3 linked regions of the Homo sapiens genome follow. The protein of the gene in region 3 purifies or fractionates together with the protein of the main gene of each other region. This does not show direct contact. Each region holds a gene or a part of one and is shown on either strand. Other genes may lie near its edges.

The links. Proteins that work in one complex are often made in the same cells at the same time.
Region 1: the proteins of PCDHGA6 (region 3) and GOSR1 purify together in Homo sapiens (affinity purification with mass spectrometry; one large-scale study listed by BioGRID and IntAct). This does not show direct contact.
Region 2: the proteins of PCDHGA6 (region 3) and ITFG1 purify together in Homo sapiens (affinity purification with mass spectrometry; one large-scale study listed by BioGRID and IntAct). This does not show direct contact.

The regions. Positions count from the first base shown.
Region 1 is NC_000017.11:30,483,908-30,487,407, forward strand, and holds part of GOSR1 (Golgi SNAP receptor complex member 1), read left to right. Parts: intron 1-306; coding exon 307-394; intron 395-755; coding exon 756-863; intron 864-3,500. UniProt on the Homo sapiens protein: Involved in transport from the ER to the Golgi apparatus as well as in intra-Golgi transport. It belongs to a super-family of proteins called t-SNAREs or soluble NSF (N-ethylmaleimide-sensitive factor) attachment protein receptor.
Region 2 is NC_000016.10:47,157,064-47,160,563, forward strand, and holds part of ITFG1 (T-cell immunomodulatory protein isoform 1 precursor), read right to left. Parts: intron 1,928-3,500; coding exon 1,810-1,927; intron 542-1,809; exon of another isoform or gene 492-541; intron 1-491. UniProt on the Homo sapiens protein: Modulator of T-cell function. Has a protective effect in graft versus host disease model.
Region 3 is NC_000005.10:141,376,891-141,380,390, reverse strand, and holds part of PCDHGA6 (protocadherin gamma-A6 isoform 1 precursor), read right to left. Parts: exon of another isoform or gene 746-3,500; intron 1-745. UniProt on the Homo sapiens protein: Potential calcium-dependent cell-adhesion protein. May be involved in the establishment and maintenance of specific neuronal connections in the brain.

The sequences.
Region 1 (3,500 bases), on a different chromosome or scaffold from region 3:
CTGTATATATTGGATTTAAAGCCAGTTCCTGAGTATTCGTTAGCTAGTTATCCAATCTGTGGATCATTTAAACCTCAATCTTATTTCCTCTTGGTAAGAGTCAAGGAAAGAAGAGAGAATGTAATGTTGAGGTTGAAGGAACCATAATTCCTTTGGGGTAAAAATGTAAAAGATCGTTTCTCACAGACCCTATATAACATAATCCATAATTCATTTTATGGCTCCTATTAATCACCTTATTATTTTAAGTATGTTTTAAAGGACTGATTTGAGTAATGGATCCTCTTTAACTGAACTTCTTTTTAGTTCTGATACAACACCCCTTTTAAATGGATCAAGCCAAGACAGAATGTTTGAGACAATGGCGATTGAGATTGAACAACTTTTGGCAAGGGTAAGTGCTTTCTGTTAAATGGCTATTTTGCAAATAACTGTATACTTGTTACGTAGGATCCTGGATTATATTGAGACAGACATGTTTATTGAAATTATCCATTCCATTCAATATGTGTACCTCCCCACACCACTTGAATTTTGATGACAGCCATTCTCAGGTGATATGATGTTATTTTGGTCTTTATGGATTATGTGGGGGAATGCTGAATTCTTACTTGCTCTCTTGTTTGTTTTTTGTTTTGTTTTGTTTTGTTTTGTTTTGCTGTCAACCAAAAGGGCATATAGGCAAATAATTTGCTTTTAGCTGTTTATAGTGCTTAGTAAAATATTTTGATTGTTTTTTTTTTCTTTATTTCTAGCTTACAGGGGTAAATGATAAAATGGCAGAATATACCAACAGTGCAGGTGTCCCCTCCTTGAATGCAGCCCTGATGCATACATTACAGCGGCATAGAGACATATTGCAGGTAATATATTGGGCTCGAGATGTTTTCATTATCACAGGAGTTTGGGTTTTTTTTTTTTTAATCCCTGCATTGGATATGTGCACATATATTTAAAAGGACAAAGAGAAAAATCTGAGAAAATAAATGCCATGCTAAAGGGACTTGTTTTACTTTTTTTTGGGGTCACCATTATAAAATTCTGAAAATATCTAATAGCTCTTGCTATTTCTTGGCGAAGTTGAGTAATATTCATCACTGGGTACATATACTTCCACTATGGGAGACCTAGCTAGCTAGCTGTAACAGTGAAATAGCCAATGGTCATGTATAGACAATAACGTGGTGGGTAAGCGTGTACTTTCAGCTAGCTTTGAAGATAATATGGAGGGGGAATTATTTACTATACTTAGTATATTGTTTAAGAAAACAGTAAATGTGTATGCACCAATAAAACTAAATAAACTTTTAAAGATTTAAATGGAGGATATGTTAAAAATATGGTAGTACAAATAGGAAGGCAATTTTTTTTTTTTTTTTGAGATAGGGTTTCTCTGTCACTCAGGCTGGAGTGCAGTAGTACAGTCACAGCTCACTGCAGCCTCAACCTCCCAAGCTCAAACAAGCCTCCTACCTCAGCGTCCTGAGCATCTGGGACCACAAGCACATGCCACCACGCCTGGCTAATTTTTTAAAAGCTTTTGCAGAGACAGGTCCTTGCCATGTTTCCCAGGCTGGTCTCTAACTCCTGTGTTCACGAGGTTTTGCTATATTGCCCAGGCTGGTCTCTTAACTCCTGTGTTCACAGGTTTTTGCTATGTTGCCCAGGCTGTTCTCTTAACTCCTGTGTATGGGCAATCCACCCCCTCAGCCTTCCAAAGTGCTAGAATTATAGGCATGAGCCGCTGTACCCAGCCACAAATATTTTTAATATTGAGAAAAGTCAGCAACTATTTCTAATTTTAAAAACTGTTTTTAAAAGTAGGAATAGATGGCCGGGCGCAGTGGCTCGTGCCTGTAATCCCAGCACTTTGGGAGGCCAAGGCAGGTGGATCACCTGAGGTCAGGAGTTGGAGACCAGCCTGGCCAACATGGCGAAACCCTGTCTCTACTAAAAGTATAAAAATAAGCTGGGCATAGTGGTGGGCGCCTGTAATCCCAGCTACTTGTGAGGCTGAGGCAGGAGAAGCTTGAACCCAGGAGGCGGAGGTTGCAGTGAGCTGAGATTGCACCACTGCACTCCAGCCTAGGCTACAAGACTGAGACTCCATCTAAAAAAAAAAAAAAAAAAAAAGTAGGAATAGAAAGATACTTTAATACAAAAATGTATTATCGGGTTAAAAGCTAGCATTGTGTTTAAAGAGAAAGCAATAAAAACATTCCCATTGTATGAAACAAGACAAGGATACCCATGATCGCTACAAATGTATAACGTTGTTTTTTAAGTTCTTGATGGTGCAATTAGACAGTAAAAAGAAATGAAATGTATGCTGGGCATGGTGGCTCACACCTCTTATCCAAGCACTTTGGAGGTCTGAGGTGGGCGGATCATTTGAGGTCAGGAGTTGGAGACCAGCCTGGCCAGCAGGGTGAAACCCCTTCTCTACTAAAAATACAAAAATTAGCGGGGCGTGGTGGTGGGTGCCTGTTATCCCAGCTACTTGGGAGGCTGAGGCAGGAGAATAGCTTGAACATTGAACCTGGGAGGTGGAGGTTGCAGTGAGCCGAGATTGCACCACTGCACTCCAGCCTGGGCAACAGAGTGACTGTTTCAAAAAAAAAAAAAAAGATGTAAATATTGGAAAGGAAGAGGCAAAATTTCTGTGAGGTAGCAGGATAAAATTATATGTCTAGTACACGCAAGAAAATTACCTGATAAAAAGTTAGAAACAATTAAATTCAGTAAGATGGTAGATCACAAAATGAATACATAAAAGCAAATAGTTTTCCTATTATGATAGGAAATAAATGATAACCTGTTAGAAAATACAATGGAAGAAACTATAAAGCATTTATATATGAATTAAATAAGAAATGTGTAGGACTTGTATGTGCAGAATTCTACTGAGGGACATAGAACAAGATTTAAGTAAAGGAAAGAATCATTCTGTTTTTGGATAGGAAGACTTTCGTCTAAATTGCATGACATCCCAGTGGAAACAGCAGGGTTGTATCGTTGTTTGTTTAATTAAAAACAAATGACATAATGACACCAAAGTTCATTTGGAATCATAGACATACAAGAACAACCAAGAAAAACAACCTGAAAATGAAGATAAGTGGTAGAGGGTTCCTAGTTCTACCAGATCTTAAAACCTGTTAAAAAGCTGGAATAGTTAAGACAGTTTGATACTAGAGAAAAAAAATAAATAAATAAAAACAATTAAACAGAGTTTATATGTAGACCCAATTATGTTTGGAAATTTTTAGTTTCTGATAAAGATGTTGTTTAAAATCAGTGGGGCAAAGAGAAATTATAAAATAAATGGAACTATAACCATTGCTTAATTATTCAGAGATTTTAAAAAAACAATTCTATCTCAATCCTCACATCCAGAACAAATTCCAAATGGATCCAAGAAGGATAGAAAAAGAAACCATAAAGCAGAGGTGAAATTTGTAAACTTTGGAGCAGAAAGGACTTTCTAAATAAGACTTGAT
Region 2 (3,500 bases), on a different chromosome or scaffold from region 3:
AGAACTTCTTACAGAGGCAGAGTCCATAGGCAAGTGATGAAATCTTGTAGGTTAAGTAAGAGAGATGAAGCTTTAGAATGCTGGTTTTGAGGTGCTGTAAGTCATCTAGGTTGAGCTATCATGGTGACAGTTGGAAATGGGGAAGGACCTTTAGAGATGAGAGCTGGGGATATCTGAAGCCATGATTTTAGATGAAATTGGCAGGGAAAGTGTTGAAAGAAGAGGGCCAGGGGCAGACACTGGGGAAAGCCTGCATTGAGAAAATGGTAGAAGGAGCCAGCCTGCTTAAGTAAAAAAGTGGTTAAAGAGGTTCTACCTCTTTGAGATACCACAGTGCCACAGGAGATACAGTATATATATAGTCAAATATATACTTGTACTTAAAACTTTCATTTTTGGCCACTGCATAATTATTGTTATAAGCACGCAATGTTTATGCTGTAATCAGATCTACTGAGGAATTAATGAAATTCATTTCCTTTGCTTCACAGGTCAAGAACTGTGGAATCTTTCAGATGATATTCTGATACTTCTGGACCAAGTATGTATGGTTGTCCTTGATCTTACTCTTAAGTTGCAATCTTAAGGTTAATTGAATATGTAACTTCATGTTACTGTTTTTGATATGTAAAGGAGTGATTTTTTAAAAGTGACAAGCCTATGAGCATTTATAGAACAACTAATATGTTCTTTTTCATATGTTAAAAGAACAAACACGGTAATTCTAGCAAAAAATGATTATGATGGCATGTCAATCCAGAGTGTAGGTGCAAAAAAAGAAAAACACCTTTCTTTGGGGCCACAAAGCAGCCCTTTTTTGAGGGCATTGATTGGAACCCATATATAAATAGAAACTAGCTTTTTCACATATATCTAAACTGCTAATTTACAGTGATAGCCTCTTTTTTCTTTGCATAAAAATCTTTTACATATTTGGGAGTTTTGTTTTCAATTATTATTTAGAGTATTATACTAAAGAACAGAAATCAGTTTAATGCAAAGAATACTTGATAGATGAAAAAGATGTTTATGGCTTTTTTCTTTTTTTGAGACAGGGTCTCACTCCTTTTGCCCAGGCTGGAGTGAAGTGGTACAATCGCAGCTCACTGTACCCTCAACTTTCTGGGCTCAGGTGATTCTCCGACCTCAGCCTCCTGAGTAGCTGAGATTACAGGCTTGCATCATGGTGCCTGGCTAATTTTTGTGTATTCTGTAGAGACGGGGTTTCATCATGTTGCCCAGGATGGTCTCAAACTCCTGAGCTCCAGCAATCTGTCCACCTTGGCCTCCCAAAGTGCTGGGATTACAGGCATGAGCCACCATGCCTGGCTGTTTATTGCTTCAGTTGTTACCTTCCACCTAAACCTCAAGAAAATAATTTAACCTCTTTTCACTCTAATTCTTTTCAAAGAGATAGCTGATAATCCTAGCCAAAGAATGTCCATGGCTTTATCAGTACATACTGAACACACGTTCATTTTTTAAAATCATTATTATTTTTCAGGTCATTATGAAATTGTTTCTAAATGCCTTTTGATTTCCGGTTGATCACTTTATTACTACCGTACTGCATCAAACTTTTAAAGTAGACATCTCTTGTGATTTGTATGAATTGATAGGAGACATTAGTAACTTCCAGGGATAAAAGAAATTATCATCAATAAAATGATGCTTTGAACAGAACTTGAAAAATGATGAAATTCTAGTCATATGAAAAAAGTTTAAAATAAATATAGTGTTTTTAAAGAGCAATGTATGTATTACTAGAATAAATTAACCAAAATTAATGCTTCCTTTAAATGAACAAACCTTTTCCTGCCAATGTAAAATGCCAATTATTGCCAAGATGAAAACACAGACACCGATGAGAGCTATAGCAGTAAGCAGAACAATATTACTTGGTGTAAGATACAGTTTGGCACTCCAACTGTAGATAAAAACAGAACAAATTAAAATTACAAATTTTATTTAAAAATAACAAAGTTATATTGAGACCCCAAAGCAAAATAGCTTATTAATTAAACAGTCAATGTATTCATTAAACCATTCATTCATCAGTCCATTCATTATAAATAAAACAAAAACAATTAAAAATCAGATAGTGCTGAGAATATTGATGATTCTGCAGTTTATATTTTACCTAGACAACTGAAATAGAATTTTTGATGAGATATTTCAATATTTTTCATTTTCCAAGTTTGATCCTATGAGAATTATTTTTAGGTAAACATATCCAAGGGTACTTTGGATAATCATAGACATCTTTTTTACATCTTGATTTACCTGCTTAATTTGAAAACCTGAACTCTAAAGCAAGGTAGTCACATGATCCTAGAAGCCTTCTGTATCATCTTATTTTTGACCTGTGTCACATATATAATGTGACCAAGTAAAACATAAATGTTGATGGCTTGTGCAAAACTTCTATAATTTTTATATCATGTTGGAGTGTTTACATTACTACAATGACTTTTAGGTTCAGATCACTTACAAAATCATCTTTAGTCCCTCACTGTTAATGGCAATATACAGACTAGAGGTCTTTAGTAAACAGAACTAGTTCTTTCCTTCTAAAACAGTCCATGTAATATAGCATTTGCACACCCTGAAAGCCTAAAACTAAGGACTGTATCACCAAGTGTGAAGGTTGTTATATACACATAACTTTTTGTTCTTCCTAGAAATAGGTAATGGCTATATTTTTATTTTAAAAGTTTAATAAAGGTAAGACTGTTCTGGTAAATAGCAAGTAGCTATTGATTTATTCTGGGATAATTAAAATTTATTGATCCATAAGTTAGCTTCTAGTCAATAACCTCAAAATACACCTCAAAAACTAAAATCAATTTGGTTTTTATTATGTACATAAATTTGAAAAGAACATTTCTTTGGAAAGAGTAAGAGAAACATGAAAAATGTTGAGATTACGGAAAAAAGCTATGGTATAATTTTCTGGAAATTCAGAAGAGTAAGTAAACCTTAAGAAAACAAATACTGTTAATTAGTTGAAAGCTACTCTTAGTGTTATACTCATACTTAAGAAAACAGTTCTTTTATGAGATGTTTTTGGTAGTTCTACTTTTAAAATAGATTTTTAACAAATCAGGAATGTAAGTGTTTTGGTAAAAAAAAAAAAAAAAAAAGACAAAAGTCAATCCTCAGTTTTCTCCTCAGAGGCAGTCACTCTTACCAGTTTCCTGCATATCCTTTCAGAGATATTTTATACATGTATGAACATGTATGTATAGATGGCTTCTTTTTAAATCACAATGGCTGCTTATTATACATACTCTTCTACATTTTGCTGTTGCTTCTTTTGTTTGTTGTTGTTGTTATTGTTTTTTGCTTACCACTCCATCTTAAGAGACTGTTCTATGTCCGTGGCAGTGAAAAAAAATCATGCTACTGAGCTGTATAGAAGTACCGTACTTTATATAGTTTCCTACTCATGGTCCAGATTTTCTAGTTTTACTGTAAATTTCATCTATAGAAAACTAACA
Region 3 (3,500 bases):
CTCTCTTTTCTTTTTTGGGACTTTTTTTTCTAAAAAACAAACAACAAAACAGTTCTTTGAAGTTCCATTTAGATTTTCATTCTCAAGCAAAGATATAGGTATCTTCCAATGTTTCTCCTCTGAGATTTTACTCCTTCCCCTTTGACAATTGCCACCTCAACAGAAGCCTGATCAGAAATGAATGCCTTTCAGGCCGGGCTCAGTGGCTCATGCCTGTAATCCCAGCCCTTTGAGAGGCTGAGGCGGGTGGATCACTTAAGGTCAGGAGTTTGAGACCAGCCTGGCCATCATGGTAAAACCCCATCTCTACTAAAAGTATGAAAATTAGCTAGGCATGGTGGCATGCACCTGTAATCCCAGCTACTTGGGAGGCTGAGGCAGGAGAATCGCTTGAACCCAGGAGGAGGAAGTTGCAGTGAGCAGAGATCACACCACTGCATTCCAGCCTGGGAGACAGAGCAAGACTCTGACAAAAAAAAAAAAAAAAAAAAAAAAAAAAAAGAGGCTTTCACAGACCATAAAATAAGAATAAGACAATAATTTGGTAGTTTTTTTTCCTGATGCTTCAAAATTCTATACTGAACTCTCAAAACCTCAGATAGCCTATCTTATTATTAATGATCTGTATTGCAGGTGGATTAAAGAACCTCATTTAGCCATAACTTAGCAAATTCCATGACTGCCAGGATGTTTAACAGTTGGTCAGTCCACATGAGTGAATGACTTTTGTGAGAGTAGAAGTTGGTAGTTTTTCCATCAGAGAAATATTTTATTTGTTTAAATGAAATGGTCACAGGTAATAAGAGAATAAAATAAACCAGCCTGATCTCCATGAAAAGTAGTTAGTGAGCTTTCCCTATAACAACAAATGCTCAAGATGTAGTTTAACATCCCAAATTGGTAGTATAGTAAAATAACATTCACACTTTCAGAGTTTATGAAATAATCATATGTATAACAGCCCATCTAACTCATGAGACTAATATCCAAGATTCAAGTTGTTTAAAATTGTTATTTTATCAAATTATATCACAAAGATACAAGAAAATGAGCTTTGAAGATGTGTATGATTAGATCTCTTGTTTAGGTATATACCTTTGGAAACTTGAAATAAATAAATCTATAACAATTCCTTAAATGTAAATACCACAATATTGGTTCAGAAAAACACATATTACTCTTAGCAGCTTATTTAAAAACACATCAACTCAATGTTATCTTTAAGAAGACTGACAAAGTCAGGTTACAAAGGAGGTTCTCATTTATTTTCAAGGTATCTTCTCAATTGCTTTTTTCTTACACATTCATAACAAATTCAGATGCACAAGTGGCCAATCCATTCTATAATACCACCAGATTGTAGAATCTTCCAACTCATGACTGGAGAAAAATCTTGACTATAATGTAGTTCAACAAGTCATCAAATTAGAGAATCCCCTGTACTCCATTCATTCCAGGGCCATCAACTTACTTTTGAAGACTGTCGATAACAGAATCTCCTATCTCCTTAGTGATCCATTTTCTATTCGAACATCATTGACAGTCAAAAACTCTGCTGTTTTCTGTTCATGAAACAATGATTCTGTTTGCACATTTCAGTCATAATAAATAAGACTAATCAGTCTTCTAAATGATAATCCCTTTTTTCTTGAAATATTTCAATAAAGAGTTCCTATATGATGAAAGCCTTATTGTCTGGGTTAAAATGCTAAAATATTTAAATTTTTATTTGAACCTCATTAACATTTGTTCTCCCATTCACCAGTCAGTCATCTATTTTTAGAGATATGTCCTGTAAGCAGACACTACCGAGCATGTTTTAAAATTCATGTTCACTCTTTATTTATTAATTATCATTATTATTTTTTGAGACAGAGTCTCGCTCTGTCACCCAGACTGGAGTGCAGTGGCACGATCTTGGCTCACTGCAACCTCTGCCTCATGGGTTCAAGCGATTCTCCTGCCTCAGCCTCCCGAGTAGCTGCGATTACAGGCCCATGCCACCCCACCTGGCTAATTTTTGTATTTTTAGTAGAGACGGGGTTTCACCATGTTGGTCAGGCTGGTCTCGAACTCCTGACTTCGTGAGATGCCTGCCTTGGCCTCCCAAAGTGTTGGGATTACAGGCATGAGCCACCGCACCCGGCCATTTTCACTCTTAAATACTATCAGGCACACAGTATGCAAAAGACACTGTAGTAGGCACACAGCATCGGTGCTTAGTTATTGTTAACAACCCAATAATTATAATAATGGTGATGTCAACAAATACGTGTTCACTATGCTGCTTTAGAGTTTGAAAAAAAGTTATAAAATTATTTTCTTAGAATTTGAGTCAGATAGATAAGGAAAGTCTTGTTTTAAAAAATAATATAAGTAGAGCTTATTTGAGCCAAGCTTTAGGATTGCAACCCAGGAACATAGATTCAAGTTGCCCTGGATACACACTCTATAAGCAGCAGTTACAGGTGGATTTTTACTCCAGACTGGGCAACAGAGGGGGATCCTATCTCTGATAAGAGAAGTCTTTTAAATCTTAATTTTAATTGGAAGATAATGGCGATTGTAACTGGCCCAAGTAAATAACAGATAGTTACAGGAATGTTATTCAGGTCTTTTAACACCAAAGATCTGGTGTCCCCTGCTGCAGTTACCAATGATTCTTATCTTTTCAAAAATAATTTTTGATTCCTAAGTAGTAAAGGTGAAAGATCTCTTGTATGAACGTCTGTCGTTTATAGTTATCAAGTAACACTGAGAAAAAACAAAATCTTTTTTTTTTTTTGAGAGAGAGAGAGAAAAAGTCTCATTCTGTCTCCCAGGCTAGGGTGCAGTGACACAATTATATCTCACTGCAGCCTCATACCCCTGGACTTAAGCAATCCTCCTATCAGAGCTTCTCGAGTAGCTGGGACTACAGGTGTACGCCACACATCTGGCTACTTTTTTTTCTTTTTGGTAGAGACAGAGTCACCCAGGCTGGTCTCAAACTCCTGGTCTCAAGGGATCCTCCTGCCTCAGCCTCCTGAAGAGGTGGGATTACAGGCGTGAACCACCATGCTAGCTAAAACCAAGATCTTGATCTTTAACACTGACCTAAATTAAGGTTATTTTTTTTCCCACATTAGAAAAAGAAAGAACCTTACAAATGTCACATAGTAGGAAAAAACCTAAGAAACGAGATGTACTCAATCCAAGACACAAATAGTTTGCCAAGAAGAGAAAGGTAAAGAAAAACTAGGACATGCATTATTTTCCCCCACAAAATTAAGACTTCAGAACATTCTTTTGATATAAAAGAAAAACATTAGAATTATGTGACTCTCTGCAAAGGGCTAAGAAAACTAAGCACTAATCAAAGACAATCTTGAATTTTCCTGTCAACCAATAAAAACGATACCCTCGGCCGGGCGCGGTGGCTCACGCCTGTAATCCCAGCACTTTGGGAGGCCGAGGCGGGTGGATCATGAGGTCAGGAGATCGAGACCATCCTGGCTAAC